Regions from separate parts of the Homo sapiens genome. Here region 1 is linked to region 2. Evidence: fine-mapped expression QTL. Tissue or cell type: whole blood. Region 2 holds a variant in brackets; the other region holds the start of a gene. All regions are shown on one strand. Distances are from middle to middle.

What was found.
Region 1: it holds the start of SLC17A5, and the variant in region 2 is fine-mapped to the expression of SLC17A5 in whole blood (TOPMed, PIP above 0.99).

What each region holds. Positions count from the first base shown.
Region 1 is chr6:73,651,830-73,656,829 of GRCh38, reverse strand. SLC17A5 (solute carrier family 17 member 5) reads left to right here and starts at 2,838. Exons shown (of 11, transcript NM_012434.5): 1 at 2,838-3,037. The coding sequence starts at 2,944. RefSeq lists an enhancer at 1,634-1,723 and a silencer at 2,723-3,392.
Region 2 is chr6:73,623,943-73,629,472 of GRCh38, reverse strand. All of the region lies in intron 6 of SLC17A5 (solute carrier family 17 member 5), which reads left to right. Among named protein-coding and RNA genes, the nearest start is that of SLC17A5, 27 kb to the left of the region's middle. The variant A/G (reference allele first, on the strand shown) is at 2,156.

The DNA of each region.
Region 1 (5,000 bases), 28 kb before region 2:
CCCCTTAAGTGAAGGCTGCACATACTGATTTCCTTCCAAAGAGAAAAGTAAGGCCGGGGGAAAAGAGTTAACTTCACAGTGAAAACACCTGACAAACACAACCTCAGGCATGCAATGAGGCTTACCATCACTACTGATAAACATCAGTGATAAATAAGTTGACAGCACATTCCCTTGACATTACATGATGAGAATGGCCCTTTACCTCTATGACCTTTCCCTCAAAAATCCATAACCCCAGTCTAATTATAAGAAAAACATTCAGGCCGGGGGTGGTGGTTCATGCCTGTAATCCCAGCACTTTGGGAGGCTGAGGCAGGTGGAGGCTGAGGCAGGAGGTCAGGAGATGGAGACCATCCTGGCTAACATGGTGAAACCCCATCTCTACTAAAAATACAAAAAATTAGCCGGGCGTGGTGGCATGCACCTATAGTCCCAGCTACTCGGGACGTTGAGGCAGGAGAATCGCTTGAACCTGGGAGGTGGAGGCTGCAGTGAGCCGAGATCGTGCCACTGCACTCTAGCCTGGACGACAGAGCGTGACCTCGTCTCAAAAAAAAATTCGACAACCCAAATTAAGACACTTTCTACAAAACCTACCAGTACTCTACAAAACTGTCAAGGTCAGCAAAAGCAATGAAAGTCAGGAACTGTCGATCTAGAGGAGCCTAAGGAGACATGTAATGTGGCATCCTGGATGAGATCCTGGGACCGAAAAAGGATATTAGGTAAAAATTAAAGAAACGCAAATTAAGTATGAACTTCAGTTAATAATTATCTATACTGGCTCGTTAGTTATGATATATGCATGATACTAATGTAAGATCTTAATAATAGGTCAAACTAAGCAAAGGGTATGGAGAACTCACTGTACTATCTTTGCAACGTTTATGTAAACCTAAAATTTCTAAAATAAAAAATATTAAAAAAAAGAATTCCTCTGGTTTGAAGTCTTTCAAGTCTGTTGCAACTATATTCCCTGGCCCAAGTTATCTATAACCTTGGTCATCTGGGAGCTTGTTAGCAATACAGAATCTCAGGCACATCCCAGATGTACTGGGCTTCTCAGAGAAACAGCCCCAATTGGGTAGTTTGGGTAATAAAGTTTTGGCTTTCACAATATAGGCTGGCCAACTCGACCCAAAACAGATGATGGTGCACATGCCTGGAGACCCAGGAGGACCTGTGGTGCAGATGAAGTCTGAGGACACTCTGCTGGAGAAGTCTCCCTTGCTTGGGCAAGAGAAGTGGGGGAGTCGGATTTTTTATTCTAGATAGGCCTTCAACTGATTGAAGGAAGCCCACCCAGATTATGGAAGGCAGCCATCTTTACCCAGAGTTCAATGATTTTAGTGTTAACCTCATCCAAAGACAACCAGCAAGTTAACACATAAAATTAACCATCACACCAGATCTGCTGAATCTGAATCTACATTTTAAAAGGATTTGCCAGGTGACTCTGCATAATCCAGTTTGAAAATTGCATTTTTCTACAACCCTTAGAGAGTGTAAAAATCTACATGGTAATTCAGTAACTCAGAAACAAGGCTTGATTTGCTGCTTTAACTTGAGAACTTTTCTAGCATTTACTGATCTGGAGGTAGGGATGCCTACAGAAATCCTCGCCCTCCCTTCTAGGTAAAGGACCCTCCCCTTTGTTCTCACGTGAACCTCACTAAGCTTCTAACCTGGTTTACTGAATTAGTGGCTTGTGGGTCTTCCCTGTCTACACCAAACTCTCCGAGAGCATCTACATCTTATTTTCTACCTCCACAGAGACAGCCTTTATTGGCGGATCCAGATCTGCCCTGCCAAGGCAAGCTGGGTTTTCCTAGTTTCACTTTCAGAGTCCGCAAATGCTAGCACAATCTATCCAAATTCTATCGTGGAGATAAAGCATGCACACATACATCAGAGGATTCCATAGGTCGAACCATATGAAACTACCTATGTTGATTACTTTTACCTATAAAACCAGCAACATCATAGGACTCAACAAATTTCCATTGCTGTTTTTCCGCCTAAAAGCTATTTTAGGACCAGGAGCAGTGGCTCACGCCTGTAATCCCAGCACTTTGGGAGGCCGAGGAGGATTGCTTGAGCCCAGGAGTTCGAAACCAGCTTGGGCAATATAATAAGACCAAGCCTCTACAAAAATAAAAAGTAGAAACAAAATTAGCCAGATGTGGTGGCATGCTCCTGTAGTCCCAGCTACTTGGGGGAGCTGAAGAGAATCGCTTGAGTCCAGGAGTTGGAGGTTGCAGTGAGCTGCGATTGCGCCACTGCATTCCAGCTTGGGCAACAGAGCAAGACCCTGCCTGGGAGAAAAAAAAAAAAAAAAAAAAGCTATTTTAGGGACAATATGCCGCCACAGTCACGAGGTAAATATGCCGCCACAGTCACGAGGTAGATCGTACAAAGGTTGCTAACAGTATGGCAACTGACCGCTAACAAGCGAATGTCAAGTTGTGAAATGCACACCACCCACTTCCCTAGTTCGGTCGAAGCCCTCCCCTTAATTATGTGCAATTCAAGTCCCCACTGCCCGCCCGCAAGCCCCCACTCATCCTCGCTGCGGGCAGGGTGGCCCCTGCACTTTACAAGGGGGTGCAGGAGCGGGAGACGGTCGTCCGAACACCGGCTCCCCGGCATGCGTAGACCGGCGGGCGGAGCGGGCTCACTTTGCGCCAATCCTACGAGAACTCCCAGAACTCCGCTTCCCTAGTCCAACCCAAGCCAGAGTTGCCCACACCTAAGATGGCGGCGGGGGCGGAGTCGGCGCGGCCGCCTCTGGGCGGGACCGCGGGGACTAGACGTGGCCGCGGGGCGGTGTCATCGCCCCCGCCCCGCCCGGTCCAGCCAGCTCGGCCCGGGGGCTTCGGGCTGTCGGGCCGGCGCTCCCTTCTCTGCCAGGTGGCGAGTACACCTGCTCACGTAGGCGTCATGAGGTCTCCGGTTCGAGACCTGGCCCGGAACGATGGCGAGGAGAGCACGGACCGCACGCCTCTTCTACCGGGCGCCCCACGGGCCGAAGCCGGTAAGCGGCGGGGTCGTCCAGGGGCTTCGAGTGGGCAGCGGTACCGGGGGCGGCGGTCTCTGGGCCGGCATGGCCCGGGTACCCGCACCCTGCGCCGGCGGGACCGGAGCTGCTCAGGCGCGAGGGGACATTAAGAGGGGAGCCCGTTCAGAGTGCCGCTCAGTCCCGCCTGCCTCGGTGCGCAGAAGCCCCTCGGGAACCCCGGGGGCCGCGACCGTGATCGCGGAGCCGAGCCGGGGCCTCGGCAGGTGCAGCCCCACCGGGCGGGGGCGGGGGCGGGGGCGGGGGCGGGGGAGCGGCGGTGCAGCCGGCGCTGAGCTGGTGGTTATTTTGGGTAGTGCTGAGCAAGGGACCCAGTGGAAGAACGAACTGGGAGAGAATCATCAAATGAATGGGCTAAGGTCCGAGCGGAGGACCCCGGTGTAAGAGCAAACTGGAGGAGAAACCTGCAGATCAGTAGGCAGAGGGCTGTCCTTCCCTGTCACCGCTAGGTTTCCGCCACTGCGTATCCGCCAGCATGTGACCTGGTAGCTTCTTAGGCGGGGAGGGAAGACAAAAAAGGACTGGAGTTAACATTTGTGAGTATGCAGAGGGCAACTATTGTATAACCCAGCTGATATCTTGACATTGTGCAGTAAGAGACTAAAAACATCGAGGACATTTTTTTTCCGTCTGGCAGTCTATGATTTAAGTTAGGAAAAGGTTCAGTTATCCTCAAGATACCTATGGAGTTCTAAAGTAATTTGCCAAAGGTCTTGGAACAAATCGAAAAGCAGGTACGTCATAAAGCATCTTCCCTGAATTTGAGAAAATTAAAATATTTTGCTATTTGACACTTTTGTAATATAGTTTATTTAAAAGTAACGAAAACTAAAGAACAAATCAGTTTGAATGCATTCTATAGTTTCAAAGATCTGTGCGTGAGAAAGAGTTGTGTTGGAAATTTGACTTTGGCTAACCCAGAATTGTATAGTTTCTATATTTTTATTTGTTTTTAATGTTACCAGATGGTGGCAGTAGAGGTGGCAACCTTATAGCTCCATCTGGCAGCCGGGAGCTTATTTTAGTCAACACAAACTGTAAATACCATACCATAGTTACGTTTTACCTGGAAGTCGGACTTAGTTCCATAAACTGATCATTTTCTGTGGCTTGTAGTGTTCAAATTGTATAATATTCCTCATAAAATAATATAGAAATACAGAAATAAAAGTTATAATAAAGATATTTGCCAGAGATTATTACATTGTTACAATTGAAAAATATGTATATGTATAATCAAAATTTAGCACAAATGTTAAACATTATTCTCAGGAAAATGCAGATTAAAATTACAACGAGGCACTATACACCCACTAGAATAGCTAAAATCCAAAAGGCTGATAATACCAAATGTTAGCAGAGATGTGGATAGAAAAGTTATACATCTCAATAAAGATTGAGATGGACAAATGTATACATTTATCACGTAAATTATACTTCAATAAAGTTGATTTTTAAAAAAGTAGCTTATAGCATCCCTTTTAAAAACAATCCCTACTTGATTCATGTGTTGAGTGTATGGATCTTATGGTACTGGCCCTGTCCTTCCTGGCTTTAGGTGGCTACGTTTGTTACAACCATTTCCTTTTTTATTTTCCCTCTTTACATACCCACTGGAGAGCAAGTGAAGTGGAAATAATAGTAACATACTGTTTTTGCTATTTAGAATATGATAAGTTTTATAGAGAAGGAGCATATATGGCAATTAAGAGAAGTATATAATGAGCCCCCATGTAACCAGCACCCAGATTAAAGTTATCAATTCATGGCCAGTCTTGCCTTATGCTCATACATACTGTGTATTTTGAAGCAAATCCCAGATACCATGTCATTTCATATGTAAATATTTCAATTATTTACCTCTAAAAGATAAGGACTCTTTTTAACATAACTACAGTACTATTATCACAGCAAATAAAAA
Region 2 (5,530 bases):
TCCAAGGATATCATGGGGTTTTCTTGTTTGGTTGGTTCTGGGTTTGTTTTTTGTTTTTGTTTGTGTGTTGTTTTGTTTTTTGACACAAAGTCTGGTTCTGTTGCCTAGGCTGGAGTGCAGTAGCATGATCTTGGCTCACTGCAGCCTCCCTCTGCCTCCCGGGTTCAAGCCATCCTCCCACCTCAGCCTACCAAGTAGTTGGGACGACAGGTGTGTACCACAAAGCCTGGCTAATTTTTGTATTTTTTGTAGAGACAGGGTTTTGCCATGTTGCCCAGGCTGGTCTTGAACTTGTGAACTCAAGTGATCTGCCTGCCTCAGCCTCCAAAGTGCTGGGATTACAGGCATGAGCCACCATGCCCAGCCTGAAGATAGCATGTTTTGTAACTGTTTTACTTCTCCTTTATGCCTTTTAGGAAGAGTATACAATTTTGCAGCATTGCGAAGCAAATCAAATGGGGACCTTGGTTTGAATATTTAGTTGTCAAATTAAGACAGAAATTAAGAGCATTTTTTACATGTAACTTTGCTAAATCAATTTGCTGTTACTTGCATTTGACAAGAAAAATTTTTTTTAAATGGCATATTAGAATATATTCAAGTATTTGTCGAGTGATCTTACCCTCTATATTTCACACATTTCATGACAAATAATTTTTATAGTTTGTCCTTTTCTGTTTCAACTTATATGGAAAAAAAGTTGATTGAGCTATTATTAGAAATTCGATGATACATTCTGAATACAAGATTCAGGATCTCATTGATTTTTCCTTCACAAATTCCATTATCATTTAAATCTCCAAAGTATATTTGCTTTCAAAATGTTGGCTGAGCAAATGATCTGAGCAATTTTAAATTTTTTTGCCTGTATGTATTTTCCTTTTTGGGGGGTGGGGGTGGGGAGGACAGAGTCTCCCTCTGTTCCCCAAGCTGGAGAGCAGTGGCACTATCTCAGCTCATTGCAACCTCTGCTTCCCGGGTTCAAGCGATTCTCATGCCTCAGCCTCCCGAGTAGCTGGGATTACATGCACGCATCACCATTCCCGGCTAATTGTTTATATTTTTAGTAGAGCCAGGGTTTCACTGTGTTGGCCAAGTTGGTCTCGAACTCCTGGCCTCAAGTGATCCGCCTGCCTTGGCCTCCAAAGTGCTGGGATTACAGGTGTGAGCCACCACGCCCAGCCACGCATATGTATTTTCTTTTATCAGCAGTGGTATTTTAGAATAATGTAGCCCTCTAATAGGAACTTTCAGGACCAGGTGCAGTGACTTATGCCTGTAATCCGATCACTTTGGGAGGCCTAGGTGGAAGGATCACTTGAACCCAGGGGTTAGAGACCTGCCTGGGCAACATAGGGAGACCCCATTTCTACAAAAAATTTAAAAATTACCCGGTGTGGTGGCACATGCCTGTAGTCTCAGCTACTCAGGAGGCTGAGGTGAGAGGATCACTAGAGCCCAGGAGGTTGAGGTTGCAGTAGCCGTGATCGCGCCTCTGCACTCCAGCCTGTGCGACAGAGCGAAACCCTGTCTCAAAAAAAAAAAAAAAAGTGGCAGGCACAGTGGCTCACGCCTGTAATCCCAGCACTTTTGAGGCAGGTGGATCGCCTGAGGTTAGGAGTTCTAGACAAGCCTGGCCAACGTGGTGAAACCCTGTCTCTACTAAAAATACAAAAATTAGCCGGGTGTGGTAGCAGGTGCCTATAATCCCAGCTTCTCAGGAGGCTGAGTCAGGAGAATTGCTCGAACCTGGGAGGCAGAGGCTGCAGTGAGTTGAGATCGTGCCACTGCACTCCAGCCTGGGCAACAGAGTGAGATTCCTTCTCAAAAAAAAAAAAAAATGCTTTCATAATTTTTAATTTTTTGCCAACAATTAGATATGATGAAGCCATCGAGAGTATGTGTTTACATTGCTTGATTGGCAAGATAGTAGTGTGTTAGAAACAATAGCAAGAGAATAATTTCTAGATCCAGAACATCAAAAAAAGCTGTTTTGTACCTTCTTAAGCCCAACCTTGTGTTGTCCAGTATGGTAGCCACTAGCTCCACGTGGCTGTTATATTTTTAATTTAACTAATTTAATTAAAAATTTAGTTTTGGCCAGGCACGGTCGCTCACACCTGTAATCCCAGTACTTTGGGAGGCTGAGGCACGC[A/G]GATCACGAGGTCAACAGATAGAGACCATCCTGGCCAACATGGTGAAATCCCATCTCTACTAAAAATACAAAAATTAGCCAGGCATAGTGGCACGCGCCTGTAGTCCCAGCTACTCAGGAAGCTGAGGCAAGAGAATCACTTGAACCTGGGAGGTGGAGGTTGCAGTGAGCCGAGATCACGACACTGCACTCCAGCCTGGCGACAGAGCGAGACTCCGTCTCAAGAAAAAAAAAAAAATTAGTTCTGGCCAGGCGTGGTGGCTCACGCCTGTAATCCCAGCACTTTGGGAGGCCAAAGTGAGTGGATCACCTGAGGTCACGAGTTCAAGACCAGCCTGGTCAACTTAGTGAAACCCCCATCTCTACCAAAATACAAAAATTAGCCAGGCATGACAGTGAGTGCTTATAATCCCAGCTACTCGGGAGGCTGAGGTGGGAGAATCACTTGAACCCAGGAGGCGGAGGTTGTAGTGAGCCGAGATCGCTCCACTGAACTCCAGCCTGGGCAACAGAGCAAGACTCCATCTAAAAATAAAAAAATTTAGTTATTCAGTCACACATATGTCACACATATGACAAGGGTTTTGTTTCACTTCATTTTCTTTCATCAACCTGTTAGAAGGACAAGATTTAATAACCACATGTAACTACTGGTTACCCTGTGGACAATGTGCATATAAAACATTTCCATCATCATGGAAAGTTCTACTGGACAGCACTACCTTAAACTCTTGAAGGATTTTTTTATAAATGTCTGCTAGATACGCGGATAGTTTCTCCTAGTAACATTTGAAAATTCATCTTTAACTTGAAAGTTTTTATAAATGAAGACTTTCCCCCTGAAATATAACTTGTAATGTGGAAATACTATAAGTTGATCTTACAATTCATATTGGGAGAACAGAAAACTGTTGTGTTGTACCTAGATTACAAATGAACACTAAGCTGGAATACATACATTTCACATTCTTCTTTCTAAGCCTCTAACCCTGTGAGCCTTGTATTCGTTTGATAAGCAGCTATTGAGAACCTGCCATGTGAAGGGCTTATGTGTTAGACATACAGCTCATCTTGGTTGGGTGATTGTTCAAAAACATCAGATTATCAAAAACTCAATTGATATTTATAGGTTGTGAAAACATACCAGTGTGACTAAAATTAAATATTTCTTATTTCAGGTTATGTTTCCAAGAGGTAGGGTACATTCTTCAGAATACATTCAGTTTTCAGAGATCAAATACATTTACACTTGTACCTTTCAGCATAAAAGAATGATTTCACTTCCTTTGTGGATTTCAAAGCCATATAAAAAGAGCTATGTTCCAAATTCCTTCAAACTCTAAAATCCTCTCTGCCCTGAGCTTTTCAATCAAGAAGGATAAGGGCAGACTTTTTAAAATCTGATCTCTACAGCAGTGGGTCCCAAACTTGCTGCACATTGAAATCACCCAGGGATCTTCAAAAACTAGGGATACTTACCTCCCACCCACCCACAACCTATTCAATTGGTCTGTGGTGTGACCTTGGTCTCAGTGTTTTTAAGGCTCCCCTGGGTGATTCTTATATGCAGCAAAGTTTGGGAACCCACTGCTCTATAGAATCACCAGTGAAGCCTTTTAAAACTTAGATTCCTTGGCCCTACACTCAGAGTTTTTTTGCCTTACTTGTTTTTGTTTTGTTTATTCAATAGGCAGAGAGTAGAACACAGGCCCCTATAATTGTAAAGTATAGCTGGAGTTGAAAACCACTGCTGTAAAAGAATCAATGTTCTCTCTCCTTCTCTTTCCCTATATCTGTACATCTTTGATCATATTAAAAAATACAACCAAGCGCAATGGCTCACTGGCTCACGCTTGTAATCCCAGCACTTTGGGAGACCGAGGCTAGCGGATCACCTGAGGTCAAGAGTTCACCACCAGCCTGGCCAATATGGTGAAACCCCATCTCTACTAAAAATACAAAAATCAGCCAGGGGTGGTGGCGGGTGCCTATAATCCCAGCTACTCGGGAGGCTGAGGCAGGAGAATCGTTTGAACCTCAGAGGCAGAGGTTGCAGTGAGCCAAGATCGCGCCACTGCACTCCATCCTGGACAACAGAGCAAGACTCCATCTCATAAATAAATAATAATTTTTTAAAATTTGTAATTAAAAAACACAAGAGCATATCTACAAAGATGTCAAGTAAAAAGTCCATATGAAAAAGGCCAGAAGAAGGTTGGGCAATACTGGTTCTTCCTCTTTTTAAAATAACAGCAACTGTGAACTCTGAAGGCAGAAACATAGATTGCTCTTGCTTTTGAGAAAAACAACAGTCTTAGCGTATAGAAAATATAAAAATCTGATGCCCTAAATATCAGTGGTATCCAAGCTTTCTTGATCATGCAAGAATCAATAAACAGGTGGGAGGCTCACAATCTGAATGTATATATATATATTGTTTTCTTTTGAGACAGAGTGTTGCTCTGTCGCCAAGCTGGAGTGCAGTGATGTGATCTTAGCTCACTGCAACCTCCGCTCCCTGAGTTCAAGCGATTCTCCTGCCTCAGCCTCCCAAGTAGCTGGGACTACAGGTCGCGCCACCACATCCAGCTAATTTTTGTATTTTTAGTAGAGACGGGGTTTCACCATGTTGGCCAGGATGGTCTTGATCTCTTGACCTCATGATCCGCCTGCCTCGGCCTCCCAAAGTGCTGGGATTACTGGCATGAGCCACCACGCCTGGCCGTATATTTATTCTTAAGTTATCTATATGTACTATGATACTTATGTATATCATAAAATATATACAGAAATAGACTTTTTAAAGGATTGATAGATGAAATAAACAGAATATACATAAAATTTACATCTTAATAGAAAAAAACTTCTTTGCTATAACTTAAAAATTACAAATAATTTGTTGTTTTTATTTTTTGAGACAGAGTCTCGCTCTGTCGCCCAGGCGGGAGTGCAGTAGCGTGATCTCAGCTCTCTGCAACCTCCACCTCCCGGGTTCAAGCAATTCTCATGCCTCAGACTCTTAACCAGCTGGAATTACTGCTGCGCACCACCACACCCGGCTAATTTTTGTATTTTTAGTAGAGACAGGGTTTCACCATGTTGCCCAGGTTGGTCTCGAACTGTTGGCCTCCAGTTATCTGCCCGCCTCGGCCTCCCAAAGTGCTGGAATTACAGGTGTGAGCCACCATGCCCAGCCATAATTTGTTGATATAATAATATTTAAAGGGAGCAATGTGTTTGACTATGTTATAGTTAATGATCTGCCATTATTTTGCTTGGCGAAGTAGTTGACAAAGGACTCATCAAGAAAAGTGGCAGCTCAGCCGGGTACGGTGGCTCACGCCTGTAATCCCAGCACTTTGGGAGGCTGAGGCG